2 separate regions of the Homo sapiens genome follow, and region 2 is linked to region 1. The links come from fine-mapping of genetic effects on gene expression. A gene starts in region 1. The other region holds a variant in brackets. All regions are shown on one strand. Distances are between the middles of the regions. Region 1 holds the start of NFYC (nuclear transcription factor Y subunit gamma). Region 2 overlaps KCNQ4 (potassium voltage-gated channel subfamily Q member 4).

What was found.
Region 2: its variant is fine-mapped to the expression of NFYC in whole blood (TOPMed, PIP above 0.99).

Annotation. Positions count from the first base shown.
Region 1 is chr1:40,682,129-40,698,137 of GRCh38, reverse strand. It overlaps NFYC (nuclear transcription factor Y subunit gamma), which reads right to left and starts at 6,434. Exons shown (of 10, transcript NM_014223.5): 1 at 6,271-6,434. It overlaps NFYC-AS1 (NFYC antisense RNA 1), which reads left to right and starts at 5,877. Exons shown (of 1, transcript NR_024567.1): 1 at 5,877-9,058. It also overlaps a transcript of RIMS3 not described here. RefSeq lists enhancers at 5,447-5,496, 5,517-5,686 and a silencer at 5,927-6,026.
Region 2 is chr1:40,820,896-40,835,305 of GRCh38, reverse strand. KCNQ4 (potassium voltage-gated channel subfamily Q member 4) reads right to left here. Exons shown (of 14, transcript NM_004700.4): 8 at 12,904-12,992; 9 at 11,048-11,209; 10 at 4,002-4,222; 11 at 2,193-2,292; 12 at 208-339. Among named protein-coding and RNA genes, the nearest start is that of CITED4, 34 kb to the left of the region's middle. RefSeq lists enhancers at 182-707, 9,856-10,759, 14,150-14,294, 14,192-14,336, 14,048-14,410 and cis regulatory regions at 14,214-14,231, 14,256-14,273. The variant G/A (reference allele first, on the strand shown) is at 10,662.

The sequences.
Region 1 (16,009 bases):
GCCAGCCTCGTCCTCCCAAAGTGCTGGGATTACAGGCGTGAGCCACTGTGCCTGACCAGACATGGATATTTCAACCTTTATTTTAAACGTATTCTACTGGAAACATTCAAATGCAAAGATTAGACTCTAGTTCCACTCTTTAAACTACAAGTTTATACAATAGAAAGCTCTCATGAAGTACTGGATGTAGAAGTAATCTATCTGGAGATCTGAAAATAACAAAATGGAAAATACAACTCCAATACTGAAAATGAGTACAGGTGCTGTCTCACTGCTATCAGGTACATCACTGCTAACACATGGAGAAGTGTGGGAAGGGTGCAACAATTCCTGCAACCTAGCAAAATTTTCTGCAGGCAGAGAGATTTTTCCTGAACCATTCCACAATACTGTCTAACTGCTTACTTCAAAGAAAACGTTACTCAAGTGACTACAAATCACACAAACCAAACCAACGGTCCTACTTCAACTGATAATTTGTACAGTTAGAAAAATTTTAAATGACTATAATGGAAATCTCTCCTTCTGGTCAGAATGAAAACACCAGTTGTTCCGAATTTAATCATCATTGCTATTTGTCAAATATGAAGAAGTTTTCATCGCATCGCAATCATTACCACTCAACACTTGGGGATGAACAAAAGAGATCAGGAAACAATCTTTCCCTGAAACAAATGATCCTACTACTTTGTGCATTCAAAAGTAAGACTGACCTCACACTGGTCCACTGAAAATCAGCTCCTAAACCACAACAGCACAACTAAATTAGGTTACTTCATGTCAAGTGGTTGCTCTCCCATTTGGAAATCTTACTGTATATTGCAGAGCAGACAATTACAAAAGGCCTCACCCCTCCTCATCAAGGAAGCTGTAACGGGCTGAAAGGACAGATTTCATGCTGTTCCAAAATGAAAATGTGTTCTCCCACTTATTAAGGTCCACTAAGTGATAGGCATCTACCACACGCTATTATATTCATTTCTCATAATTACCCTACAGGTAGGTATTATTGTCGTTATTTTACAGAAGAAGAAACAAGTTAAGAACCTGCTCCAGCACAGAGGGTAAATGCACTGCAGAGACAGAACTCTTCCCTTGGTCTGACTCCAATCAGCAACTAATACTGTCCTCTCCCATAGGCACTTTTTGGCCAAAGTTTTAAAAATCCATTTCCTCCTGCAATTAATCTACTTACATTATATTGAGTGCTTTGAGTCTCTGCAGGAAAACACTAAAATGACCTTGTAGCCTTCCTAAACTGTGACAGTGCATGCATGAAAAACTGAATAAACAAAATGAAAAGAAAGACTGTAAGACATCAGATAACTCACAACCAGTTTCCTCTGAGAACAAGAAACAGAATGGAAAAGAACAACTTACTGGCAAAGGAATATTCTTCCTGGTTGTATGCCTGAGGCCAGGATTGACCTTAAGAAGGTCATTTGTGACCCTAGTAATGTCCTCTGCCATTCTCATTCCGGTGAATGAAGTAAACCTGTCACTTAAAGTCATCTCTGCCATCAAGTCAATGCGTCCACAGGAGAGGCAATGCTATCCAGTGGAATGAGCACCTATCTGGAAATCCAGTGATCTGGGCAAGATTTGGCTCTGCCCTTGCATAGCCAAGTGACCCTGTCAAGGTCATCTCACTCTTTTGGAGCCTCAGTACAAAGGACACGCCTGAAAGAACTGAAGTTCGCTTCCTGAGCTAAGAAGCCAGGACTTTTTTTCTTTTCCCATAACATTCTATGGTGTCAACACAGTGTTTAAGAGTAAGGGCTTCATTTACATAAGAATTAAGAATTACAAATCTGTGGCTGAGCACTGTGGCTAACACCTGTAATCCCACCACTTCAGGAGGCCGAAGAGGGCGGATCACGAGGTCAGGAGTTTGAGACCAGCCTGGCCAACACAGTGAAACCCCGTCTCTACTAAAAATACAAAAAATTAGCCAGGCATGGTGGCGGGCGTCTATAATCCCAGCTACTCAGGAGGCTGAGGCAAGAGAATCGCTTGAACCTGGGAGGCAGAGGTTGCAGTGAGCCAAGATCGCGCCATTGCACTCCAGTCTGGGGAAACAGTGCGAGACTCTATCTCAAAAAAAAAAAAAAAACAGAATTACAAATCCGTGTCTGAATCTGGGCTCTGCTACTTACTGGCTGTGAGAACTTAAGCAAATTACTTTTCAGTTTCCTCACACGTAAAAATGAGGGTGGCTATATTATCTACCTCATAGTGTATGAGAATAAATATACATAATACATTTATATCCCAGCTGGTACAATGTAAGCAAGCACTCAATAAAAGTAGTAACTATATTATCCCTGTGTTTGATTCACAGATCCTAGTGGCTCAGTACTTTTGAACTAAAAGATATAAATTTCAAAATTACCTCAAAAAGACACCCAGCATAGCCTGGCTGGGCACGGTGGCTCACGCCTATAATCCCAGCACTTTGGGAGGCCGAGGTGGGTGGATCACCTGAGGTCAGGAGTTGAAGACCAGCCTGGCTAACATGGTGGAAGCCCGTGTCTACTAAAAATACAAAAATTAGCTGGGTGTTGTGGTGCACACCTGTAATCCCAGCTACTCGGGAGGCTGAGGCAGGAGAATCGCTTGAACCCGGGAGACAGAGGTTGCAGTAAGCCAAGATCACACCACTGCAACTCCAGCCTGAGTGACAGAGTAAAACTCTCAAAAAACAAAACAAAACAAAACCCAAAACAAGACTCCCAGCATAGCTCCATAGCACAGAATGGGTTTAGCCCATATATGTTTACAATTCTGTGGTATGAATCCTCATTTCGCTTTGCCTTCATTTCTCTGAAAATAAAAGGGGATAAAAATGCCTTGTAAAATCTTCTCTAGTACAGTTTTGGGATTTTTATTTATTTTTTGGGAGACTGAGTCTCGCTGTGTTGCCCAGACTGGAGGGCAGTGACACAATCTCAGCTCACTGCAACCTCTACCTCCCGGGTTCCAGCAATTCTCCTGCCTCAGTCTTCCGAGTAGCTGGGATTACAGGCGCCCACCACCATGCCAGGCTAATTTTTGTAATTTTGTTTCATCATGTGTGCGAGGCTGGTCTCAAACTCCTGACTTCAAATACCACCTGCCTCAGCCTCCCAAAACGCTGGGATTAGAGGCGTGAGCCACTGCGCCCAGTCTCTAGTAGTTCTGACCAAAGAAAAAAATGTGTAAGTATAAATGAGATAACAGATTTGTCATAAGAATTAAATAAGATGCCATGAACACAGCCTATAAAGTATAAATCTTAGTATGATTTCTGCCTGAAGAAAAAGCTGAGGTTCACAAGTTTTCAACATAAACTCAGATCTACTGAGATTTCCTGAGAGTTCAAGATTTCTAGAGTGGTCAATTCCAGATCTTAACAAGGTGGCCATGGGTATAAGGGGCTAACATGGAATGAAGGTGGTCACCAATGTTGAAGGGCAGGTTGCTCCAGAAATGCCTGCTGAAAAAAAAAAGGTGTACATATACACTCATTTTTATCACCTTGTCTAGTCTTACTAAAAACGAAACTAAGTTATAGATCTACAGCATTCTTCATATTTGGTTAACTTGATGACTGAGCCAAATGAGGCTGAAATGACCAATGTACAAAATACATGGCAAACCCTATTTTCACTTGTAGCTTTGCCTCTATCTTCCACAGTGAAACGTTATTGTAAACAAAAATGAGGGAGGGCTTCACCTAAGCACATCAAGACATAAAGCAATTAAGATTTCCAACTCACTGGTCTCCTCTCAAACCCTGATTTAAAGGTTTCCATGCAAAATTGGAACTGCAAATATTTTGTCCTATCCAGTCTTAATTTTACACATTGTTCAGGATAAGCATATCCTAGAATCAATATCCCACAGTCTGAAGAAAGCACTAGGCCTTTGAATAGGTCCTGGTATTTGGGGACACCCTAAGGAACTGGTGATGCTTGAAAAACCTCTCCAGTGAGCTCTTTACACTAGGCACTTGGTAGTTCCTCGCCATTTGGCATAAATTACCTCCACATACAGAAAGACTATCTGCAATATTCTGAAGCTTGGTTTTAAGGAATGCAGATTCTTCAAGTTTCTGTACATATTTTTCCCCATTATCTACCTGGATTCAGGAAAAAATGCAGCAATTTACTTGGTAAATCTTCCCTTTCACAATAGAAGCCAAGGGATATGATTTGAATACCTAGCTGAAGAACCCATATTCTCTATGGTTACAATTCTGTGGTCTGAATCCTTAAGCAGCACAAGAAATTCTTAAGAATTATAGTCTTCCATTTTATACACTCTAAACACCCAGAAATCAAAGTAGATGATCCACTTGGAAATACAAAATTATCTGGAAGTTTCATTAGTCAGGTTTATGTTGATAGCTGATGTAGCAGATAAAATTACAGGCTTTGGCATCAGGCAACCAGGGTTTGAATTCTAGCTCAACCACTTACTGAGTGACACCAGACAAGCTACTTAAACTCTCTGATCCTCAGTTTCCTCATCTGCAATATGGGGACGATAATGCCTACCTATTGGAGTTAAAATATGCCCCAAAATAGCAATTCTCTTCCTCTGCTACTTATCAATTCCCTTCTCCAGAAAATGTAGTTGCATTCACATAAAACTAAATTTGAAAACCCTAGGAGTTTCTTGAAATTGGTATGAAAACAGAAGAGTACCATCTAAAGCTAAAAAGGACTACCTAACAAAAACAAGGAAAAACAAATTAGGAAAACACAGATGTTTAACATAAATGTGTTTCCATGGCCCTCACACACTGGGACGAGCAAATGTAAAGCAATACAAGTAACTACGATTCAGATTCAGTGGAAAAGAACATATTCCCAACAAGTTGACTGGAACGACTCTGGATTGGAATAAAAACTTTTTGAATATGAACCAGAAAGTGTTGACAAGTCCTGTTCCTTAAGAAGCTATGCATGGGCTTTTTTTTGGTTTGGAGCTGCTTATTTGAAAAAACAAACAAAAAATTCAAAGTACACATGGGAATGGGTATACTTTTTAGGCACATATACAAGGAAATAAACCAAGACCGAAAATTTCTGGCTAGCTCCCTTTCCCTTAAAGGGGAACCTAACAATATTTACTCAACAAATAACTACCAACTACCTAATATTTGCTAATGTGGCTTTGGAAACTCAGCCATGACCTGTATCCTTCCTAGAGCAGCAAATTTCATATACAACATCTCAAAACTACTTGTATGGTCCTGAGACTCAATAATGTATAACTGTTCTATTAATACACTTCCCAAGTCCGAAAATGTCCCCTAAAATGCTTCCTATATCAGATTTTGTCACTTTAAATCTGATACTACTTAATGCTGTGCTTCCTAGGCTCGGACAGAGCACACTTCTCAATAGCATTCCTCTCTCGGTTTACTTGCTCCTCACATCACATCCCAGGTCCGTTGACTCTGGACTCCAGGGCTCCACCAAAACCTCAGTGTTTGAATGCTTGCACTCTCCAGCAAAATCCCTGATCCGATTCTACCGTTCAGCTATGCCCCTAGCCCTGATGCCTTTCTTCCTACACCATACACTCACACCGTGGACTTCAGGGCCACTTCCAAACTGGGTCACATTAGCAACCCTGGATCTCGAAGACTCTCAGCCTGTCACTTGGGTTTCGGTGTTTCCAAGCCTGGAACCCTGAGGGCCTGCACACCCCAATCTTGGGCCATGCATGTACCAGGAAAAGCACCTCTGAAAGTGAGTGTCCCCCATTCCCAGGCCATGGCCTAAGCTACCCCCAAAGTACCTGCCAGGCCATCACCCTCTCTTCCCCCTTAAAGCCTCTAGGCTCGCCCTCTCGCCGCAACCCCACGCCTGCGCCGCAGGGGGTCATTGCCCCAGCCGCCCTAGCCCAAGACGCGCGCATCCCCGCAGCCTCAGATTCCTTCATCACCCCCTAGACCGGAGCTGGCGCGTCCAATAAGGTGCCAGGTCCGCGGCCTCCCCGCCACCGACCAATCACGAGCGAGCCCCCCCGCCGTCGCCTTCCGCCAATGGGAGAAAGCCCGCGGGCCGGGCCGACGAGGCACACGGACCCCACGAGCGCGGCGGCGGCGACAGCAGCGGGCCAGGCAAGAGCACAACATGGCGGCGGGCAGGACGGACCGAGCTACAGCAGCGGCCGCGCGAGGAAGTGAGGTCTCTGGCGAAGGCGGGAAGCGCTGCCCCTCCCCCCGCCGCCGCTTCCCTATCACCCTCGCACAGAAACTCCCGCACACTCACACACCTCTGCTCAGGAGTCCAGGAAGAGCAGGAGCCGCCCCCGCGCTCCTACGGAGTCGGGCAATGCAGAGGCCCAGGCGCGGCGGAGGGGAGGGGGAAGTGTGCGTCACGGAGAACGGAGCGCGCGCGAAGCGGGGGCACAAGCAAGATGGCGGCCACGCCGTTTGCACCGTTTCCCCTTTTCCCTTCCCCCTCCCTTGGCGCCTGGACTCCCAGTATCGTGCGGTGCGCAGAAGCTGTGCTCCTTGAGGTCTCGCGAGAATTGGGAAGGGGCGACGACAGAGGGAGGCGGAATGAGATCTGAGAGTTTTAACCCCGCCCCCTTTCGGGAGCTCGAGATCTGAGTTTTGACCCCGCCCCCTTTCGGGGGATCCGGAGGCGCTGCCCAGTGACCTCCACCACCCTGCCTATCCTTGTGGATCTCCTTGGTGCGAGCTTGAATTTTAGGAAATAAGTAGGTGTGTGCGCGTGCCCTTGAGTTTTAGGAACTAAGTAGGGGCGTGTGTGTGTATTTGTGTTTTTAATTTGGGGAGAAAGAACTGGGGGATGAAGGTCGACATGGCGTTCCAGATTAAGCATGCCGTTCAAGTAGACAGCTACTGGCACCTTAAATTCATAAAAGAGCATTTAGCACCAAACTGTAAAGTGATGTCCTCTAGAATAAAGAACAGTACTTACCAAGAATAGTTAGCTTGTAACCTTACGTCGACATAGTTGTTCTTATTTGAATGCAGATTTTAAAGTTTTATCACGCAGTTGGAAACCACAGCTACTATGAGCATGGATTTTTTCATACTTATCTCTTTCATTTCCGTGACCACTTGGTCCAAAGGCATCAGGATTGTATCCATTTTACAAATGATAAAACTGAAGCTCAAAAAGGTTAAGTAACTTGATCTAAGTCCCCACAGCTAGTAAGTGTCAAAACCCCATCCGAATAACTTCAAAACCTGTAGGTATAGTCATCAAATGTGTCTTGAATGGAATTACCTACAGTGAGAGTTAGTGCATTAGGTAACAAGCGCAGAGAGGAATGACTGCCTCTGCTGATGGTAACCTTGAATTTTACAAATGACACTGGAGCCTTTCTGAGACTAGTGTTGCATGGGTCCTCAATAAAATCACACTGTTGTTACTCACTTCCTTTGGGTTTATAACCCTGGTGATAAAGTAATTGAGAATAGTGGAGTAAACCCTCGACTTGAATTCAGGAAAATTGTTTTCAAATCCAGTTTCAATAAATCTCACATCAGGCACTCTATTTGATGAATGAATGAACAAAACCTAACTATAAGACACTTGACTTCAGGGAGTCTCAATTCCTTCATCTGTAAAAAGATCTAATTCCTAACTTTTGGTAATGTTGGGGAGAGTGAATGAAATAATGTGAGAGTGCTTCGTAAATTGCAAAAGTGTTATAAAGAAGTTACTGGTAAGAGCTACGAGTGTCTCGCTGCACTCTAGCATGGGCGACAGTGCGAGGCCCTGTCTCAGAAAAAAAAAAAGTTACTTATAATGACATTTTCAGACATGAGAAATGGCATAAAATTAAAAACAGATTCAAGAGAATAGTATGTTGAGATTGTAGAGACAGATGTAGCTAATGGAAAAAAGCTAAATAAGTCTCTCTACAGATGTTTATTGAGTACTTATTGCATATACTATGCTTGCCAAAAAATGTAAAAGTGTACATTTAGTTACAATGAAGCAGCACAAGTTATTATTAGTGATTATTGTTATAATTAAGTATTGATCACACTTAGGGGCTGCAGTCTATTTCCTTCCAAGAGCCTGGAAGTTGGGTTGCCCTCAGAAATAAATAAAAATCTACATAGAGGAAATTAGCTAAGAGTGATATTAAGTATATTTAACAACAAGTAGTGCTCAAGCATAGATGAAGCAGAATTAGAAATGCAGCTAGGATCCTGGAGGTATACGTCTGTGCTAGGTGTTAACCCTTCAGTTGCTGGTTTGTGAATAGGAGGTCCCAAGGGATCCCAGGGGAAGGGAGTGGTCAGGAGGTTTGGGACAGCAGCTATTTACCAGGTAGTACTAGAGTATTTCAGTATTTTAATAGTCAATGTTATAACTGATAACAGTCAATTGATACATATAAGCCTAATATTAGTCCTTGCTATAGTCTTTATTATCAATAGCCTCCGCCCTTCCCTTTCTAAAGCCGTTGCTATCTGGCCTGTCCCTAGGAGATTAGGGTGAAAGACTTCTCACCCTAATGTCGTCAAGCTTGGCCTTGTTTTGACCAATGAAATATGAGTAGAAATGGCATGAACCGGCCGGGCACGGTGGCTCACACCTGTAATCCCAGCACTTTGGGAGGCCGAGGTGGGTGGATGACGAGGTCAGGAGTTCAAGACCAGCCTGGCCAAGATGGTGAAGCCCTGTCTCTACTAAAAATAAAAAAATTAGCCAGGTGTGGTGGCAGGCACCTGCAATCCCAGCTACTCGGGAGGCTGAGGCAGGAGAATTGCTTTAACCAGGGAGTTGGAGGTTGCAGTGAGCAAATATCACGCCACTGCACTCCAGCCTGGGCGACAGAGTGAGACTCTGTCTCAAAAAAAGAAAGAAAGAAATGGCATGAACCACTTCTGAGCAGAAATTTATGAGCTATCTTACAATTTTGCCATATTATCTTTCCTCTGACACAAGAGCAGCATGTCCTAAATAGAGCTCCCTCTTCAGCTTTGGTCCCAGAATGAAGATGTGCAGAGCGACAGCTGACACACATAACCTGTAATGTTGTGTGAACAATAAATAAACCTTTGTTGTAAGCCACTGAGATTGTTTTCGTTGTTACTGCAGCATAACATGCTAGCTAAGCAGACTAATACAACCATGAAATTAGCTATCCATGGGGGTAAGCCAAGACCTTTTTTACAAACATGACCAAACAAAACAAAACAAACTCTGATAAAGGGCATATGGGAGGAACCTGAAGAAGGTAGATATTGTAATTTAATAAATGGAACCTAATCAATCTCGTCAGCCATTCTGTACCCTGTTTGGAGAGAGATTCTGTGAACAAAAGGGCTTGCTCAGCCATGGCAGCCCAAAACAAGGCAGTCACAAAGGCTAGCACTACCATTGCCCCTCTAAGCCTCATCTCAATTAAGCCACACTGAGCATTAGGATTTCCTTGCCCGTGTCATCTCTGTAGTGGATGGGAATATCTCAGACTGCCTCAGCTAAGAAATACTTCTTAAGATCAACATGCTTTCCTCTATGTTCACCCAGCAAGTGTCTTGGCGATAGGGACAGAATTAAGTGATCTGCCACCTAGAGTATTCTAGTTCTTTTGATCATTGTATTTTTCATTGTAACTAATCAGTTAGATTCCTCTTTATATAAAAGTTTCTGTGAGCTTGGCAAATACAAGACACCCCCTACCCCCAGGAAATGGTTCAACTTTCTGCTTACTATTAAAATTAGGTTTCTGAGTTTGCAAGGTTAAACATCAGTTCTTGTATCATGGTAAATTCCTTAAGGTTATAGCACTGTATAACAGAACCTGTCTAGACAGCCAGCTGGACTTCCTTAAGCCACACCTCTCTATCTCATTGTGTACCTTTGGCCTAAAAGAAAAGCAGCGCTGGCCAGGCGTGGTGGCTCACACCTGTAATTCCAGCACTTTGGGAGGCTGAGGCGGGCAGATCACGAGGTCAGGAGTTCGAGACCAGCCTGATCAACATGGTAAAACCCCGTCTCTACTGAAAATACAAAAATTAGCCGGGCATGGTGGCACACGCCTGTAATCCCAGCTACTCAGGAGGCTGAGGCAGGAGAATCACTTGAACCTGGGAGGCAGAGGTTGCAATGAGCCGAGATCGCACCATTGCACTCTAGCCTAGGTGACAGAGCGAGACTCTGTCTCAAAAAATAGAAAAGCGGCACTAAAAGATATAGTTCATGTGCTGCTGGAGTTCAAAAAGGGAAAGCTTACTTCCACTTAGTATGAAATAGTGGGAGGAGTTCAGGAAAGATTTGCAAGGATGTGACATTTGAACTGGGTCTTGAAAAATGAGTAAAATTAGGGAAGACATGTAGGCAGCCACTAAAGCAAATAGAAGAAGCGAGGGATCAGTTGAGGAAACACAGAGTAAGAGGGAATGGAAGAAGAATCATGGAAAGATACATTATTATGGTTAAATTAAGGCTCTTGGGCTTTATTTTCTGATACGGGAAGTGAGTGGTAGAAGTTTTTTGTTTTGCTTTTAAACAGGTTTAACCATTTTTTTTTTTTTTTTTTTTTAGGAGATGGAGTTTTGCTCTTGTTGCCGGGGCTGCAGTGCAATGGTGCAATCTCGGTTCACTGCGACCTCCGCCTCTCGGGTTCAAGCGATTCTCCTTTCTCAGCCTACCGAGTAGCTGGGATTACAGGCGCGTGCCACCAGGCCCGGCTAATTTTTGTGTTTTTAGTAGAGACGGGGTTTCATTATGTTGATCAGGCTGGTCTGGAACTCCTGACCTCAGGTGATCCACCTGCCTTGGCCTCCCAAAGTGCTGGGATTACAGACGTGAGCCACCGCCCCTGGCCTAAATTTAACCATCTTTAAGTATACATTTCAGTGACATTAAGCCTGTTCACGTTGTGCATCCATCAGCAGAATTTGTCATTATCCCATACTGAAATTCTGTATACGTTAAACGCTTACGCCCTATTCTCTTTTCCCCAGCCTCTGGTAACCACCATTCTACTTTCACCTTTTGGCCACTGTGAATGATGCTTCTGTGGACATTAGTATACAAATATCTGTTGGAGTCCCTGCTTTCAATTATTGGGGGTATATACCCAGAAGTGAAATTGCTGGATTATATGGCAATTCTTATGTTTAATTTTTTTTTTTTTTTGAGGAGCCACCATACTGTTTTCCATAGCATCATACCATTTTACATTCCCAATGGTAGAAGGTTTTACAGAAGATAGTGACATGATCAAAACTATGATTAAAAGCAATCTGGAAAAGAGAGTAAGATGGAGTAGAGTGGCAGAATGACCATGTGGAGACTTCCACAATGGTTTAGGCAAGATATAATGAGGGCGAGGGCCTGAACACATCATCAGCAATGAGAATGGAGGAAAGAGGATACAAATGCTGAGGTGATATTGCCAAGGAAAGATTGTAAGGACTTGACCATTGACTGGCGATTGAGGGGTTAGGGAACAAGAAAATTAAGGGTTTTTTTTGTTTTTGTTTTTGAGACGGAGTCTCATTCTGTCACCCAGGCTGGAGTGCAGTGGCGCAATCTCAGCTCACTGCAAACTCCGCCTCCCGGGTTCACGCCATTCTCCTGCCGCAGCCTCCCGAGTATGTGGGACTACAGGCACCAGCGACCATGCTCGGCTAATTTTTTTGTATTTTTTTAGTAGAAACGGTGGGTTTCACCGTGTTAGCCAGGAAGGTCTCGATCTCCTGACCTCATGATCCACCCACCTCAGCCTCCCAAAGTGCTGGGATTACAGGCGTGAGCCACTGTGCCCGGCCAAATTAAGGTGTTTAATATGACTCCCATGTGTCACACCTGGGAGGATGGTAGTCTTCAGATGAAGAGTCAGGGTATGGAGAAGTCATGAGTTCAAGTTTGGATATATAGAGTTCGAATTACAAGTGGCACATTGTAAGCTGTGGGGTGGACATTTGTTGTCTTGCCTGCTGAATACCCCTTGCCCTTTCAACTGGTAATGGCACTCTACTTTTTTTCTTTTGAGACAGAGTTTCGCTCTTGTCACCCAGGCTGGAGTGTAGTGGTGTGATCTCAGCTCACTGCAACCTCTGCCTCCCAGGTTCGAGCTATTCTCCTGCCTTAGCCTCCCAAGTAGCTGGGATTACAGGTGCCCACCACCACACCCAGCTAATTTTTTGTATTTTTAGTAAAGACGGGGTTTCACCATGTTGGCCAAGCTGGTCTTGAACTCCTGACCTCAGGTGATCTGCCCCCCTGCCTCAGCCTCCCGTAGTGCTGAGATTATAGGCGTAAGCCACTGCGTCCAGCCTACTTTTTTTTTTTTTCTTTAAAGGTTGTAGAATTTATCCTTCTTCATCTATGTATTGGCTAGGCTGGGAGGGTGTGTGGCCATGAGAATGTGCTTCTCAGATCTCTGACTGAGGAAATTGTAATTTACCAGCAGTCCAGCTGCTGAGTTCTGAAATCCATCCTGAGCTTTGAAATCCATTGCCCTTTACTCCGAGGTCTTACTTCCCATACGCTGCTCATAGCCAATAACTGAGCCCAACGGGGATTTTAGGACAGGACTGTTCCTGGGATAAGTGATACTCTTCCGATGGGTGACTTTGACTCAAGGACTCCTCAATGGCCTTGCCAAACTTTCCTTAGAACTTCATTGCAGTCTGAGACACTTCCACCTTGAACACCTTCCCTCTGTCCTTCACTCAGGGTCAGGCCTGCGTCACTGTGCGATGGCTCTCTCAGTCTTCCCCTTCCATTTCCTCTCATAATAAATTTTTTTATTTATTATATATTAATATATATTATATTATATAATATATATATAATATAATTATATTATATATTAATAATTATATATATTAATATATATAATATATATATTAATAAATTATGTTTTTCATAATAAATTTATTGCATTTTATTCTGTCTTGGCGTTTGATTTCCTGAGACTCTGAACTAACATGAAGGGAAAGAGGACAGGATGCATCCTACCATAGCACATCTTCTGTACCCCATTAGCCACAGGAGTAGGAACATGACCCAGTCTGACCAATCAGCGATCTCCCACATCTTGGCCCAGTACCTCCTCATAGCCTCTCAGGGTAATTTGGCTCCCAGACAATTAGCCACTTGGTCCACCTCAACAACAGACATAGCTGACCAAATCTAAGCGAGGTCTCACAGTTCTGTTGCTTGAGGCCATCAAGTTACAAACATGGAGTCTATGGCTTCTCCTGCAACTTCCAGACCCTGATGAAACACCACCTCACAGAGCGTGGGATTTGGCTTCCTGAGCAGCTGCTGAAGGAGCCAGTGAAGCAACCTACTACAGAGGATTTAGCTACCCACAGAGCAAACTGATCAATGGGAGACAGGAAGGAGCTGGCTATAACAATCCACTCTTCCCTTCCTTCCTCTAATGAGCTGTTTCAAGATAAAATTTCTCCATACAACCTGTCTAGAGAGACATTCTCCATGGCCAAGTGGGTGCGCCTGTCAAGAGACTAGCTACAGCTCATTGTGAAGTAGCCAGCAAACATTTCCTTCCCTTGCTTCTCATGTTTTCCCACTTTCTCTTATCCTTAATTCTCACTACTCCATGGCTGTGCCCCTCATATAAAGCTTTAGCACTTAATCCCTTCTTCCGGCTTTGTTTTCTAGGAAACCTTGCTAAAACAGATCACAGTTTTTGAAGAGATGGGCACATCACCCAAACTAAGCTAAGAAAAGCCCTTCTAAAGATTTGAAATATATAAGAAAGACAGGATTTTTCTTCTGGAGATCTTGAGCTATGAGGAACTGAGGGCAGCCATTATTCTTGCTTCATGGAAAGAGCCTTTCTAAGAATGAAGACATCACAGAGGAAGGCAGAATTCAGACAGAGAGGGAGACAGAGTCCTGACATCCTTTGAACACCTAGATCCAACTTTCCCCAATATGTGTAACCATTTTGTCATTGCTTTATCATTCTGAAGACCAGTTTTCCCAATCCATGTCATATAAAACATGGTAACCAATTAGTCCCAAGTTGCCTCCATTCAAAAAATCATCCAGGTGACTAGATTCTTAGGCTCAATTTCAAATTTCTGGGAGGAAGAGCTCTTGTTAGAGCTAGCTTTGGCCAAATGTCCACCACTGAATCAAGTATCATTATGGAAAGGGGGACAGGGTCATGCATAAACATGGTTGTATCTACTGTAACTCTATGAATGAAGGTATGCTGGAGGGTAGAGGATAGAGTAACACTTCTCAGAAAAGTAGGAGTAAAGGATTAGGCAGACTAAACAATGTCTGTCCACTTCCTGAGAATAAATAAAGGAAAAGAGGGTAAAGAGGTCAGAGGACAGAACCTTTATCTAACCAACACTATCCAACAGAGCTTTCTGCAGTGGTAGAAATGCTTTATATCTGTGCTGTTCAATACAGTAGCCACTAGCCACGTGTAGCTGTTGAGCATTTGAAAGATGGTTAGTGCAACCAAGAAATTGAATTTTTCATTTTGTTTACATTGAAATAGCTACAGGTAGTATCTTAGTTTTCTGCTGCTATAACAAAATACCAAAGACTGGGTAATTTATAAACAAAGGAAATGTATTTGGGTTGTGGTTCTGGAGGCTGGAAAGCCCAAGAGCATGGCACCAGCATTTGCTCGACATCTGGTGAGGGCCTTCTTGCCACACCATAACGTGGCAGAAGATATCACATGGTGAGGAAGTGTGCATGTGAGAGAGGGAGGGGGGCCAAACGTATCCTTTTATCTGGAGTCCACTCCCTCCATAACTAACCCATTCCCATGCATTAATCCATTTATGAGGGCAGAGCCCTCGTGACCTCATCACCTCTTAAGTGTTCCACTTCTCAACGTTGTTAAAATAGCAATTAAATTTCAACTTGAGTTTTGGAGGGACATTCAAACCATAGCATGTAGCGAATGACTGCATATTAGACAGCATAGGTCTAGACTATTGGTCTACTTTGGGAAGCAGCATGGAATATTGTCTGCAGCATGTGCTTTGAAGTTAGCCTGAGTTCGAGTCCCCATTCCATTTACTTAACCTCTCTGAGCTAGAGAGGTGAAAGATGCAAAGAAAGTTGTATGTAATACCACAAAGAGAGAAAGAGACAAAAGATCTGCAAAAGTTCAGCCAGGCACAGTGACTCATGCCTTTGGGAGGCCAAGGCAGGCAGATCATGAGGTCAGGAGTTCAAGACCAGCCTGGCCAACATGGTGAAACCCTATCTCTACTAAAAATACAAAAATTAGCTGGGTGTGATGGTAGGTGCTTGTAGGCCCAGCTACTCGGGAGGCTGAGGCAGGAGAATCGCTTGAACCCGGGAGGCAGAGGTTGCAGTGAGCCGAGATCACACCACTGCACTCCAGCCTGGTTGACAGAGCAAGATTCCATCTCAAAAAAAAAAAAAAAAAGATCTGCAAAGGGTCAAAGAATCAGCTGGATTTGGCAATTAAGGGACTATGAGTGAATTAAGACAGAGAAGTATTAAAAGTGTGATTGTTTAAAATCCAAACCAGCTATCCATCTACCTTTTGTACATCTGCTAAATTCCTTTCCTCTGGAGGGGGACTCCAGGCAGGGAGAGAATGGGAATGCAAAAGTTACCTCGTCTCTTAATCCTCTTGGTCACATGGGGAGCGAGAACTCAAAAGTGTGTCCTGAAGATGGGGTTCCAAGCCAAAAAAAAAATCAGAACCATGGTCAGTCACGGGGTGTGAAGCCAAAGGTGGGGTTGCCTAGTCCAAGGAAGCCACAAGGAAAGAACACCTCAAATACATACCCTCTTTACATAGCACTTACACTGTGGCTAGACTGTAAGTCCTTTAAGGTTCAGGGCTAAGTGTATGATGGTACTATCAGCCCCTGGTAAGTGCCTGGTACCATAATAGGTACTTAATTAACAATAGGTACCTAAACAACAACATTGAATGAATGAATGAATGAATGAAAGTAAGCCAGTCCACTCTCTAGTGCATGGTAGACATTCCATAATATAATGTTCATTAAGTTATTAGAGGGAGGCCA
Region 2 (14,410 bases), 140 kb before region 1:
GAAACTATGGTTGGGTTGTTTCTCAGCCTTGGGACGGGTGCTGGGTCTGGCCTCAGGCTGGCACTGCAAGCCAGGGACCTCCTCAGTCTAGAAACTCAGCTGCAGCAGTGAGCCCTTGGGGGTGCTCGGGGGTTGGCCTCAGACTTCATTCAGGGCTGGGGTCGCTGCCTCCCTGCCCCTGCCTCCCAACAGGCCCGGTGCACCCACCGAGTTTGCAGGCTCTTGATCCGGCCCAGCATGTCCAGGTGGCCTGCTGAGTACTGCTCAATGACGTCCTTCACGTCGTACGGTCGCAGTGTCTCCTTGAATTTCCTTTTGGCCACCAGGAACTTGAGAATCCTGTTGGGGGAGGGGGCTCAGAGGGAGTGTCCTGTTAGAGCAGGGATTCTTTCCCAGCACCCTCTCCATCTCTTTGCTATCCCCTTGTCCAGCACCAGGGCACCTCCTGCTTGGCCACCATGAACAGCCTCTGCTGCGTCTCCCAGCCTCCCCTACCTCCAAGTAGCAGAAACAGGGATGAGATGGAAAGGGGTTAATCAACCAGCCGGGGTGGAGGATGGGGTTCAGGGTGCCATGGTATGAGAAGACAGGAGATCAGCCTCGAGAAGGAGGCTGGGGTGTGCTTTGAAGAGCCCTGCATCTCTGGCAGAGACTGGGCAATGGGACATTGTGGGGCAGGCACATCAATAACTCTGTTTTTTTTTTTTTTAATTTTTATTTTTTAAAGAGATGGGGGTCCCACTATGCTGCCCAGGCTGGTCTCGAACTCCTGGACTCAAGCGATCTGCCCGTCTCAGCCTCCCAAAGTGCTGGGACTACAGGTGTGACCCACTGTTCCCGGCTCAGTTACTCTGCTTTAGCATGCCAGCTCTGCCAGCCTGTGTGGAGAATACCCTGGAGGGGCAGAGGCGTGGGCAGGGAAACTAGCTTTAGGGGATGGGGGAGGAGATATGGAAGAGCTTGGAGCAGTTCAGGAGGTGGGGCTGAAAGTCTCCCTGGTCTGAGTCCAGGATGACTCCCATGGCTTGGGTGACCAAGTGGATGGTGGTGCCACTGCCTGAAATGGGAACCAGCCCAGGAAGAGGAGCAGGTTTGGGGCATGCTGGCTGAGAGGTCGGTGGGGTGGCCCAGGAGAGCTGGCTTGGGTCAGGTGGCAGGTCAGGTACTATGTCCTTGACACTGGGCACATGGAGGGGAGAGAATGGATGGGTGAAAAGGGGGTAAGCAGAGGCTTCAGACTGTGGGGGGTAGTGGGGACAGGTCCAGCTGACTCTGATTTTATCTATTTATCTATTTAGAGACAAGGTGTCACTCTGTCACCCAGGCTGGAGTGCAGTAGCTCAATCACGGCTCACTACAGCCTCAAACTCCTGCACTCAAGCCATCCTTCCACCTTGGCCTCCCAAGTAGCTGGAACTACAGGGGCACACCAACATGCCTGGCTAATTTTTTAATTTTTTTTTTTTTTTTTTGCAAAGACAAGATTTCACTATGCTGCCCAGGCTGGTCTCGAACTTCTGACCTCAAGTGATTCTCTTGCCTCAGCCTCCCAAAGTGGTGGGATTACAGGCATGAGCCACCACGCCCAGCCTGACTCTAATTTTAAAAGGAATACAAGAAAAGAGGCTTGTGGGCAGGTGTATCAGCCAGGGAAGAAAGTGGGGAGCCCAGAAAACTTGGAGGTTGAGGGGGTTTCTGGAGCTAGAGCTGCAGGCTGGAGATGGAGACTAGGCCAGGACGGCACACCAAGGAGCTTGGAGGCCAGATCCATGCCTAGGCCGTGGCCTAGGAGACCCTGGTCCCTGCTTAATTTTTGAGGCATGGAGACAGCCAGTAGAGCAGGGGCTTTCAAACTTTTTTGACCAAGACCCACCATAAAAAATACATTTTTTTTTTTTATACAGTTTCACTCTTGTTGCTCAGGCTGGAGTGCAATGGCACTATCTTGGCTTAATGCAACCTCTGCCTCCCAGGTTCAAGTGATTCTCCTGCCTCAGCCTCCCAAGTAGCTGGGATTACAGGCATCCACCACCACGTCTGGCTAATTTTTTGTATTTTTAGTAGAGACGGGGTTTCACCATGTTGGCCAGGCTGGTCTCAAACTCCTGACCTCAAGTGATCCACCCGCCCAGATGGGGAGCAGCAGTGGGTGGCACACGGAGGGGGGTGCTCGCCTCAGGCCTCAGTCTTACCTGATGGAGCGGATGACTGTCTTCACAGCAGGCATGATGTCGTCCACCGTGAGCTCACACTGGTAGCTCTTCTCCTCTGCTACTTCCTCTGAGGGGGCATCTGAAAAGGCAGGTATGGGGCAAGTGGCCCACCAAAGGGGCCACTCCCAACCTCCCATCCGACCCTTGTATGCCAAACCACCAGTAGAGTGTCCAATAGGAAGACAGAGGCCCAGAAAGGGCTCAGAACCTTCTTGGGGCTCCTGTGTCTCACTGCCCTCCCCAGGGTGGAAAGCCCCAGTGTGTTGCATGCCCATCTGCCCCGGTGGCCAGTCAGGGTAAACATCTGCCTGGTGGGTAGGTGGGAGCTGCTTTAGGGCACAGCTGGCCTAGTCCAGGGCAAGTTTGTTGCACAAAGCCCTGGAGGAAGCCCCACTGGTTCCACCTTGCAGAACAGTGAGCCCCAGAGATAAGGGGTTTGATGGCACTGCATGTAATCATGCACACAGTCTTCTCCTTCAGCTAAGATGGAAGGACACCCAAGTGGCTGGCTCCCAGGCCCAGCTCTGCTACTAGGGAAGGCCCTTAAAACAAACCATTCTTCCCTGAATGAGAGAAGCTTCTCTGAGGCTAGTGCCCTGTGTTGCGCAGAGAGGTGATGCTGTCCTTGCCTCACAGGAGCAGTGGCAAGAGCCCGGACAGCTTCCAGGACAGGGAAGGGAGGTCCTGGGCACCAGCTGTGCCCAGGCTTCTATGGGCAGCACCTCTCAAAGACTGGTCTATGGGGTTCTGTAAACTCTGAGGTGTCAGCCAGCAGCATCTTGAGGGCTGACACAGCACAGGCAGAAACAGCATGGCTGGGTCCCCTCCCTCCAAGGCCAAAGGGGGAGCTGTCCCCATCCCCCATCCTTGTGCACTCACCCCACCTCTCCCCACCCAGGGGCCTAAAGTATGTCAAAGCTGGGAGAAGTCTTCCAGGGGGCTTGGTCCAACCCTCTCATTTTCCTGAAGAGGACACTGAGGCATGGAAAGGGGCAGTCTCCTGCCTAAATCACAGTGGAAGTCTCCAGCAGAGCCAAAACTCAGAAAAGTGACATCAGCATGGTCCACAGTCTCATACTTGCAGCCTGGGCTGGGTGAAGAGGGGTAGGAAGAAGGCCTGGGCTTTGGAGCTGAATAGACCTGCTTGAGGAGAGCACCTCTGCCACTCACAAGCTGAGAGATCTCAGTGCCCACGTCTGTAAAGTGGGGACAAAAACAGAACCTACTTTCCAGGGTCACTGGGAGAAGTAAATGAGATAAGCCAGTGCTGGGCAGTGCATAGTCAGGGCTCATCAAGGATGCATTCCTGCCGCTTCCAAAGTACATTTGTGTTTAGCTATTTGTTGAGCACCTCCTATATTCCCAAAAGTCTTCTGTTCACCTTCCATGGATTATCTCATTTAATCCTCACAATAATCCTAGGAAGTGGATGCTATTATTGTTCCCATTTTATGAATGAGGAGAATGAGGCCCAGAGAAATTAGGTCACTCGCCTAAGATAAGTGACAAAGCCAGGATGCAAATCCAGGCAGTCTCGCTCCAAAGCCTGTGCTGCTAACCCCTATGAAATGCCACCCTCCACGTGATTCCCAAACAGTCTGATGTCCATTGTATAGCAGAGCAAATATTATAATGCCCATTTTACAGATGAGAAGACCAGAGCCCAAAGACGGTCCATCAGTTCCAGAGCTGAGACGCGAGCCAGATCTTTCTGCTCCCAGCCCAGACTGTCCCCGCCCTGCCACCCTCAGCCGGCCCTCGATCGGACTCAGCCCCCCGGGGGCTTACCCTCAGCAGAGGTGCGGGGTTTGAGTCTCAGAGATGCCCGGAAGCGGGTGCGGTCATTGAAGCTCCAGCTCTTTTGCACCTTGGTGGGGCTGGTGGCCTCACCCACCTGCTCGCTGCTTGGGGAGGTGGGCATTGTTGGAGGTGCCAGATGCTGCTTGGAAGGACCCGTCCGCCGCTGGGAGCTGCCCATGCGGATGCGGTCTTTGATGCCCATCCGGCTGCTGGCAGGGCAGGCAGGTTGGGAGAGAGCCAAGTTAGCCAGAGCTGGGGGTGGGGGTGAGTGGGGACAAAGCTGACTTAGGACTTGGGGGTGGCTATTAGGTCTGGATTCCCCGCCAAGCGGAGACTTCTTGGGATGGAACAAGGATGTGGTAAGGGAGGCCCTCACTCCTACAAGAGGCTGATTCGGGGTCAGTCGAAGCAGATCCTCTCCCCACCACCCACATCCCACCCCTCATCACCCGGACAGATAAGGGGTGCACAGGAGACAGATGTCAGAGTGGAAGGAGTGGGAGAAATCCAAAGTCAGAGACACAGACAGGAGGATGTGGGAGCTGGGCCTGGCGCAGGTGAGTGGGCAGAGGGTGGGGGTGGCGACCCCTTTGGGCACAGACAGGCTGCTGAGGGTCGGAAGCTCACCTGGCCATGCACACGGAGGTAGGCCTCCAGTCCTCACTGTACACAGGGGCAGGCTGTGTGGAGTCGAGGGTGTGTGTGTGTGCGCGCATGCACACACACACCTTGTGCACACACATGTGCGAGTGTGGGTGTACAGGCACTGGTGTGTGTACATATGTTGGCGTGTGTTTACATGTGTCATTTCATATTTTCCTCCACTCCCCACTGCTGCGGCTATCTGATCCCACACTGGTCAGGGTTTTAGGGCCTCGTACAGCTGTGCAGGCAGTGCACTGCAAAATAAGGACTCCATCACACAGACTTCCATGCAGTGGTGCCCTGGAGGTGTGCAGCGTGATGGCCTACTGAGGGCCTCGGCCCCATGGTTCTAGCTGCTGGGCCCACATGTATGCCCAGGCCATGCCTGGTGCCTGCCCTCTCAGTGAGGGTCTCTATTTGATAACATGTTCTTCTGTGGTCTCTCCTACCTAAGTTCAGCCCACCTTGATTGACATCCTGCCTGTGTGGTCTTGGATCCCCGCTAAAGATCTACCCCCCGATACTGCCTACTGAGCTCCCGGTTCAACAGCATTTACACAGTCTGTGTGCATGTGAACGTGTACGTGCACGTCTACACATGCACTCAGACTTCCCTTCCCGCATCCAACTCCCCACCACGTTCCCCAAACGTTGGAGGAAAACAAGTTAGCAGAGGCCTCATTCCCCAGGACAAGCCCTGGTTAACCATGATCTGGTAGAGTAACTCTGTGTCCAAGAGGTTCAAGGACAATGTTATGGCTGTTGGGGTAGGACCTATGCAAATGTCCTCCATCCCATGCCCTGTGACGTCATCGCTGCCTCCCCTGCTGTGGTTTGCCACTAGAGATTCCGACAGGTTCAGGTTCGGGTTCAGGGGGACCCACCCCAAATGTCTGGGGCCCCAGATCAAGAGAGTACCAGCCAGCCTTAGAGGAGACCTGAAGTGGGGCAGGAGTTGGGGGAGGACACCGTGTCACCTACTCTCAGAGGCTTTCAGATCAAGGGTTGAGCAGAGAAGAGATTCTGGTTTCGGTATTGGGTGGGAACTGGGGTCTCCCATGCCCAGGGCATGGGGTGGAGGGGAGGGAGCCAAGGTGCTGAAGTGAGGGAGACCTCGAAACCAGGGGCACCTTCAGGAAGGTGGCCAGGATGTAGGGCCATCCTTAGGGGTGGCGGCCTCTGCCCAGAGGGGAGAGGTTAATAGGTCAAGGATGGGGGCCCTGAGGGTATCAAAAGGACAGGGACAGTTCCCAGTTCCCACTATCCAGCATGCTCTCCACTGGCCCAGGACTCCATCGACACATCCCAAAGATTCCAATCAAAGTTTGAGGTTGGCTCTCCCAAACTTTCCTCTGCAGAGCCATTCCTGCAGGCTCCCTCATGCTGGCAAGCACCCTCCACCCTGCCCGGTCCGTGCAACCCCTTCTCCTGTCCTCCACTCCTCCAAGAGGGAGAGGAAGAGAGGAGAGTGGAGAAGGCCCTGACACTTTGGCCAAGGGCCTGGAACTCCACATCACTGCGCCCACCACATAAGGCTCCAATGGCGTTCTGGAGAAGAGGGCAACCTCCCTGTCAAAAGAAGTAATGCAAGCAAGGCTGAGCTTGCACTCAGCAGGACTTATGGAGGAAGGAGTTCGAGGGCTTGCACTAGAGACCTTGAAAGGTCCCTTTCCAGCTCTGATTCTGTGATGGTTGAGGAAGCTTCCAGTCTGGTTTGTGGGGTTCTGTAAGTTTCCAGCCAGCCAGAGGCCCTGAGCTCCTTTTTAATGCAAGAAGGCACTGTTTTCCCAGGAGTGGGTCTGGATTCCAGTTCCTTGGGCAGGGCCCAGAAAATGGCTCATATCAGCTCCTCTAAGTCTGAAAGCTAAAAGAAGGTGGAAGAAAACCTGGCACACAGTGGGCACCAAAAAGCTCTTTCCCCTCCCAGGCTCCCAGAACGTGCAGGGTCCCATCAGGCTGCCTTAGTTCTTTCAGTTCTCTCAGCCACTGTGTGTGGTGGGCGGTCTTTACCATCCCTATTTTATATACACGGAAAGAGGTGAGATGATTTGGCCAAGGTCACAGAGCTCCTATGAGATGGAGCAAGAACTGGAACCCAGCCTTCTCTGACTTCAGAGTCTATGTTCTTTTTCTGGGTCAAGCAATCAGGATAGGGTGTAGAGCAGTGGTTCTCAACTGGAGCAAGTTCCCCCACTCAGGGGACATGTGGCAATGTCTAGTAGGTAGACATCTAGTAGGTAGAGGCCAAGGGTGCTGTTCCACATCCTACCATGCATGTGATAGTCGCAATCCACAAAGAATTATCTAATGTCAATGATGCCAAGGTCAAGAAACTCTGGCTAAGGATCTGTTGGTACCTGGGAGAAAGATGGGGTGGGCTGGACTGTGGCTGCCCTGCTGGGGAGGCCGAGCTCTGCCCAGGCTGCCCTGCTGGTCCCAACCCCTTGAACTCACTTCCACAAGGACTTTCTTTAGGGCCTCATGATCTGCCCTCCCAGGGCCACTCTCACTGGGGGAACAGAGGCAGCCTACGACTTCTGAAGCCACATACAGCCCCTCTTCAGGGACTATGGAAACAGCCTCGCCACTGGCCTCTGCCATGGCTGTGTCCTTCCTGTCCACACCCTCCACAGCCAAAGGAGGCTTGCAAAATGGCGGGCCTGACCCAGAGACTCCTTAGCTCAACGCTTCAGCTCAAACCATTGCCCACAGCCATGGTTTCTAAGCTATTTTCTTTTAAGGTAAATAAGATCTTAACTGCTGAACATACCAAATCAAATAAGGCCAATATTTATTGGAGCCAGGTCCAGTTTTAGTGGAAGCAGACCCTATTTACATCTGCATTTTACATCTGAGGAAACTGAGGTGCAAAGGGGTCAGGTGATTTGCCCAAGGACACACGAATAGTGGGTAGTAGCTAGATTGTGGTCCAGAACCCACGTTTCTAGGAAAAAACACCTCTCAGCAGAAGCACACATGGGCAGCCAGGAGCCCTGCCACTCATCTCCTAGCTCCGGGACCCCAGCCCACAGGGCCCCAGAGGCACCTTTGGAAACCCAGGACTCCATGAGCTCAGGCTGCCAAGCATGCCAACAGGGTGAAGCTCACACTGGGCTTTTAGGTTCTGCATGACCCAGCTCTGCCCCCAACCTTCGCTCTGATGTCCAGTCTCAGGGGGGCCAAACTGGGCTGCCAGCTTTTTTCCCCACACTGTGCTCCCTCTTGCCTCCTTGCTTGGGTCCGTGCTGCTTCACTGCCTGGAATGCCCTCCCTGAAACCCACTGCTTTTAGGGCTTCCTCTGGGTTGTGTGCCTGACCCGGGCTCCACAGCCCCTGTGCTTCCTCCCTTTGTTGCACTCATCACACTGAGCTGCAATTACTCTTTGCAACTCTCCGAGGACGATGTTTTATTCATCACCGTGTCCCTAGTGCACAGAGCAAGTCCTGGCACAGGGCAGGTACCAAGGAATGCCATGGAGATGCCGCTAAAAGAGCTGGGGTCCTGGAGCTGGCAAAGGTGCCAAACCCAGCTCCTTCAGGCATCTGCTAGGTCCCCAGGTGGGTAGCAGGGAGACAGAAAGCTAAGCCCAAGGCCTGGCAAAAGTCAGAGTGAGAAGGACCCTCAGAGGTCCTCTAGTTCAATCTGCCCATTCCACAGACGGAAAACTGAGGTCCAAGAAGGGAAGCAATTTGGCCAAGATCACAGAGGGCATCAGCAGCAGAGCCAGCACACATCCTTAAGGCTCCTGCACGTGCCCCTCCTGGCACCCTGGGCCCATGCCCCAGACCTAGCAGAGGCATCCCAGAAAGGCGAGGGGTTCACTGGGCACCCAAGGCAGACGGCAGGCGGCAGGCACATGCACCTTGTCCTTGGCCCATCCTGTCCCCTCTCCAGCCCCCAAATTGGGTGGGGCAAGGAGGAGTGGGGACAGGAGGAGCAGGCGAGGGGGTACCTCGGTCTCCAGCTGGCGTGGATCCGAAAGAAACTCCGTTTATTATTAAACATCTGGCTGGAAGTTTGAGAATAAGACACGAACAGAGGTTAGCGGGAAAGGGGCTGTGGGCAGAGTGTGGGGAGCTGCTGGGATGGGGCCGGCCTCCGGTAGCTGGTGGGAAAGAAGGACCCCCACCTAAATCATCCTCCAGCCCCATCACCAGAACGTAGATGTTCTCACACTTTGCATAGGGATCCCCTGGGGACCATGTTACATATGCAGAAGGCTGTGTCTCTTCTCCAGAGATTCTGATCCTGTGGGCTTGGAGACAGGTCCAGGTATCTGCATTTTGAACAAACACTCCATGGGATGCTGATGCAGGAGGTCTGGAGACCATGGTTTGATAAACTCATTGCAAAACCCTGAAGAGGAGAGGTGCTGGCCCTGGCAATGCCATCCCCCAGGAAATCCTGCTCCTTTAGCACCACTTCCTGTGGGCACACTTGGCCCAGGTCCATCCCCAAGCACCACCAGAGGTGTGGCCAACCGAGTGTGTATATGTGTGTGTGTTTTTGGTGGAGGAAGGGTGTCCTGGCTGGCGGTCTAGACAGCCACGATTAACGATACGGCCATTGGGCCTGAGCCTGGTGACTGATCTACAAACCATGGCTCAGCCCCCTGGGGTCCCTGGGAGAAAGGGCCACTTTACTACCATCACCCTGTGTCCCAGACACTCGCCAAGTCCCCTCCCAGGCAGATAGATACGAGGCTGGGAGTCAGTGACAGCCAAGCCCTTAGTAGTAATCTGTTCCTGGGCCCTGGGGGTGTCAGGGACCAAAGGAGCCGTGGGGAGTGTACAGGTACTAGGCCCCAGGCTAATGTCCATTCCCCTTGCCTTCCTATTCAGTCAAAATGAGACCAGAGTGAACTGGAAGCACAGAGAGCCCTGGCTCAGGTCCTGGACAGGATTGCTGGGATACAAAAACTCTTGAGTTTCCGCCTGGAAACTATGTTTGGTAGGGATGAAGGTAACAATGAGGGACCTTCGGGCAGAGAATCTGAGAGGGGCCCTACTCTCCCAGGGAGCTCTCAGCCTGGCCTGGCAGTCACGCTTCCCCTCCCTCCAGCCCCAGACCTGGAGGGACTCTCCCTCTCCACCCACTTCCTGTTCAGCCCCTGGCCCAGAAGTGCCCTCACTGAGAACAAGGAAGGGAGGCTGCTCCCTGCATCCTCTGCACCAAAACTCCTCCCTAGGCCTTTTCAGCCCAGAAACTCTAGAGTACCCAGAGCCCCAATCAGCCTAAACACTGCCGATTTTCCGCCAGGACACACAGGTTCAGAATGACTGAAGGCTTCCTCCAGGACACACAGCATCGGGTGGCAGAGGCGAGCTTCCACCACGCCTCCCCTGCTGATCACTGGGCGGCTCGCCTCTTCTCCTATTCTTTGTTCTGGGCCTGGGGCTCAGAATGACATTGAAGCTCAAAGGCCAGATGTCCATTTGGCTGGTTCAGGGGTGATGTGTGAAGATGAGACAAAACAAAGAGATGGGTAAAGGACGAGGGAAAAAGAATGAGGGGGATTTAACCCCTGACCTCAAAGCTAAACCTCTACAAGAGCAGCCACTTTCCCATGCTGTGAGTGGACGGGCTTCCCTTATCCAAACATGCCTGAAATTCTTCTCTTTAGGAACGTTTATGTGGGGGTAAGCATTGTTTGTTCTTTGTTCTTCTTTCAAGATTTTGTAAAAAGCTTCAGGAGAGACAGTTCAAGGGGAAAGAGATGGCTGGGAGCGCCAAAGTGTACCTCAGTAAGGAAGGAAACAGAACCCCAAGAGGACCCTCTGGGATTAGCAAAGTTGCAGACAAGGGCTGCACAAGAAAGGAACATTAGTCACTGGCTGAGTTTACGCAGGTCCTACAGAGGTCTTAATCACAGAGCTCTCTTTCCAGCTGGCATCTCGTTCCCAAGAGGCGAGTTCAGTACTAAGTCCCTCCTAGAGCAACATGCCGGGGGAGGGGGTTCCCTGCCCTCACACCCCAGGATGGTGCCCACGATTACCTGAGCC[G/A]TAAGCACCTGTGGCCAGTGGCCTCCTCCTCTGTCCAGCTTCCCGGGAGGGATGGGGGTGCAGGGATGGAGGAGTAAGGGGGACGTGGGAACAGAGAAAGAAAGAGGACAATGCCATGAACGGAGGAGATGATGGGAAAGGATGGCATGGACATCTCTCCCACTCAGACCCTCAGAGCCCCACAGGACAAAAAGGTGAGTCCAGCCTGACCCCTCCAGAGAGGCCCTCAGTCTGTACCTGTCTGGCCCTCTGACGGCCTAGGAGTCCCCCAAACAGGCCCAGACACCCACGAAGTGGCTGAAGGCAGGTCTGAGAGAGGATGAAGACAGAGAATGGAAGAAGAGGAGGAGAAGCAAGAGGAGGTGGCAGCCCCACGGGGCCCCTACCTTTCCCCAGGGCAGAAGGAGGTGCTGCCCGGCCGGTGGCAGGTGGCAACGGGCGGGTAACGGGAGGGTGCTCCGTCGGGTACCGGCGCCCGCCGCACCTCCAGGGGCCGTAGGCCCCCATTGCGGGCCCGTTGCACGTGCTCAAACAAGAGGGCCAGCTCTCTGCAGGAGAGGGCACCATCAGTGGCAGGCAGGGCCATGGCACCACCCCCCTCACCCAGTGGGCACAGAGCTCCTGAGCTCAGATCTTGCCAGGTCCTGCTGCTCTAGAGGTGTTCACTGACAGCCCGGCCAGAATAGGACAGGGTGGACAGTGGGAGACTGGCCTTCCCCACTCCCTTTCTACCCCCAGTTCCCAGGGATGCCAAGCATGGATGTGAAGGCTGGCACAGCTCAAGGGCAGCCGTGCAAGGAGCTTACTCTCAGCCCATCAAGCTGACTGCCTGAACGTGCCGTGCCTCCTCAGAGAGGCCAGCAGTGGCCCTGACATCCTTTCCCTCCAGATCTGACTCTGGATTTTAAGGGGAGATGGAGGTGAGGAGGGCGGTGTGACAGGGTGGCTAGCCCAGCTTCCTTCCCCTCCAGCACTCACTCTTGCCACTGGGTTTTTGAAGACTAGATTCGGGACCGTGGCTTCTTCCTAACTCTCCAGGCCATTTTCTGCTGCCATGAGCCAAGGAGGGTATCTTCCCTCTCTCCTGCCTGCCTTCCCATTGCATGGATGACCAAACTAAGGTCCAGGGAGCAGATGCCCAGTGGATCCAGAATCTCCAGACTAGGCTCTGTTCCTCTGGGCAGAGGTCCTAGACCATCTGACCACCCCCACCCCCAGATCTTCCCTCATACACATTGTATTTCTTACAAATCAGCCCTGCCCCACTCTCGAATGCCCAGCCTTGAACAAAAGGCCTCTCTTCTAATCTAGTCACCTTCCCACTCTGAGGTAGGAGCTTGCCTCTGCCGGGTGGAGAGATGTGGGGGCACCAGTGTGATGCTGGGAGCCCCTCTTCCCGGCCCCTTCTCTCCTGCTTCTCCCCTGGGAAGCCCCTAGGGCTGGGAGGGCGCAGGGATGGGGAAGCCAGGTGCAGAGGCGAGTGGAATCGCGCAACAGCTTCTCCTGGAGAACTAATGAGGCAAAAAAGGCACCCGCAGAAGCGCTGAGCACAGCATCCTGCCCCAGCCACAAGCTTGATGCCCGCCTGCCCGTGGGACCGAGCTGGGCTCCATGGTTTTCATTCCTGCCTGAGGGCCTAGCCAGGCACCTGGCCACACGCACCTTTGTGATGCTATTAATAATCCCTCTCCTGGTGCCACCCCCATGCAGTCTTAGCCTGGCCCGGGCCAGTGGGGCAGACCCACTTCTGGGCCCTGAGGCTGCTGACTGGCCCAGTAAAAGTGGGCACATATTCCTACATGGGGGTTCAGGGTAGGAGCATGCACCTAAGTCTGGAACACATGTTTCTGCCCATCCCACACTTTCTCCAACCAGCTGCAATATCCACTAACTCTGTCCCCCATTCAGGACTGAGGGGAGACGAGCTGGCTGTATCACTGCCCTAGATGGCATCACCTATGGGTGAGCATGCACACTGCCAGCACTCCAGGGCCGGGGTTCAGCCATGGGGCAGGGCTTCACCAATGCCCTATGTCCAGTATCCACCTCTTCCCTGGGCATAGCAGAGTGGAATAAAGGACACTCCAGGCTCTGAATTACATAGGATCTGCAGAGCCAGCCCAGGGTGCTCCCCTGGGAGCCATCACCCCCTTTCCACCCTCCAGGGTTGAGTCTCAGCCACTTGTCCTCAAAGGGCATTGCTGCCAGCCCCCCACCCACCCCCACCCCCAGCAGGACCTACCTGAAGGATGGGAGGATACTGTCATAGTAGTACCAGGTGGCTGTCAGGTAGGCCCGGCTCATATCGGTGGAGTACAGGCGCCAGGCAGCCTGGTGGTATGGGGGACGTGGGGGATGGGGCATCAGTGAGGCCTCTCAGTCCCCACCAGCCCTCTCCCCTGAAAGAACCCAGTCCTTGGTCCAGTTGTGGGTTACCCAGAGCCAGAGGCCAGTTCCAATTCCACAGCCACTGACAGGGGCAGCCAAGAAAGTAAGGCCTAGGGAGAAACGACTTCCCCGAGGGGACAAAGCAGATCAATGTCAGAGCCAGGGGCCATAGAGCATAGAGGTTAAGAGCTGGAGTTTTGTTGTCAGGCAGACATGGGTTTCCAATCCCAGCTCTGCCCCTTATTAGTGAGGACAAATTAAGTAAAGCTTCAGGACCTCAGTTTCTTCACCTGTAAAACGCATGTAACACTACTTGCCTACCAGGGTGTTGTGAGGATTAAATGAACAGTTGTATATTAAATGCCAAGCTCAGTGCCTGGTATATAGTAGGCACTTCATGCCAGGTTCCTCTGTTAAACACTCCTGTTATTCCCCTTATCACATTTGATGAATACCTATTCATTGTGTATTTGACTGATAACTTTCTCTCCCCCTAGACTGCAAGCTGTGTCTTTGTTACCGCTGCATTCTCAGTGCAAATATAGTGTCTGGCACATGTGGGTGCTTTGCAAATGTTTGCAGAATGTCATTATTATTACTAGCAATGCCACTCCATCTTTCCCAGCTGCCTGTCACTGCCCATGGGAATACTAAGGACTGAGAGGGGAGGAAAAGCATTACCTACCAACCCCTCAGCATCCATGGGCTTGCCGAGCTTCCTCTGCAGCAGGAGGGATGAAAGTCAGACAGGAGGAGAGACTGTCCCTCTCCCTCCACGTAGGAAGAGCCAGGGAGGGACTGTGAGTGTGGCCATCAGTGAGAGCAGGGAGGCATGGAGGCTGCTAGGCAGGACAAGGCAGAGCTGGGCCCTGGACGCCTCCCTTCTTTGGATGCCTCTTGTCCTTAAGGGGCTGCCACTGCTGACCTCACCAGCCAGGCACCCTCCTAAGACAGGAATATTTTTACTTCCTGCTTGCCTAGGCCCCTGGCATGGGCTGGGGAGCAGCTGCCAGAGCTGTCTCATTAATTATGGGCACCACAATACTAGCTGTCTCTTGGCATGGACAGTGCCAGCCGCCTGCCCCTACAATGCCCCTCAGAAGGCCAGCTCCCAGGGGACAGTGGCCATTGTGCCCCAAGGGACGCTAAGAAGAAAAGGCTGAGCTGGTGGCTGGAGATAACAGCGACAGGGAGGAGGGTTCTACCCTGGGGAGGAGAGATAAGGAAGGGCTGAGTGAGGCTTGGGTTTGGGGCTCAGAGGGTGACAGGCTAGGGAGCAGGCAGAGGTGGACTGGGCCAGTATTCCCTGAAGCATTTCCTGCAAGGAGTTCCCTTACACACACCCCTGACTAGAAAAAGCC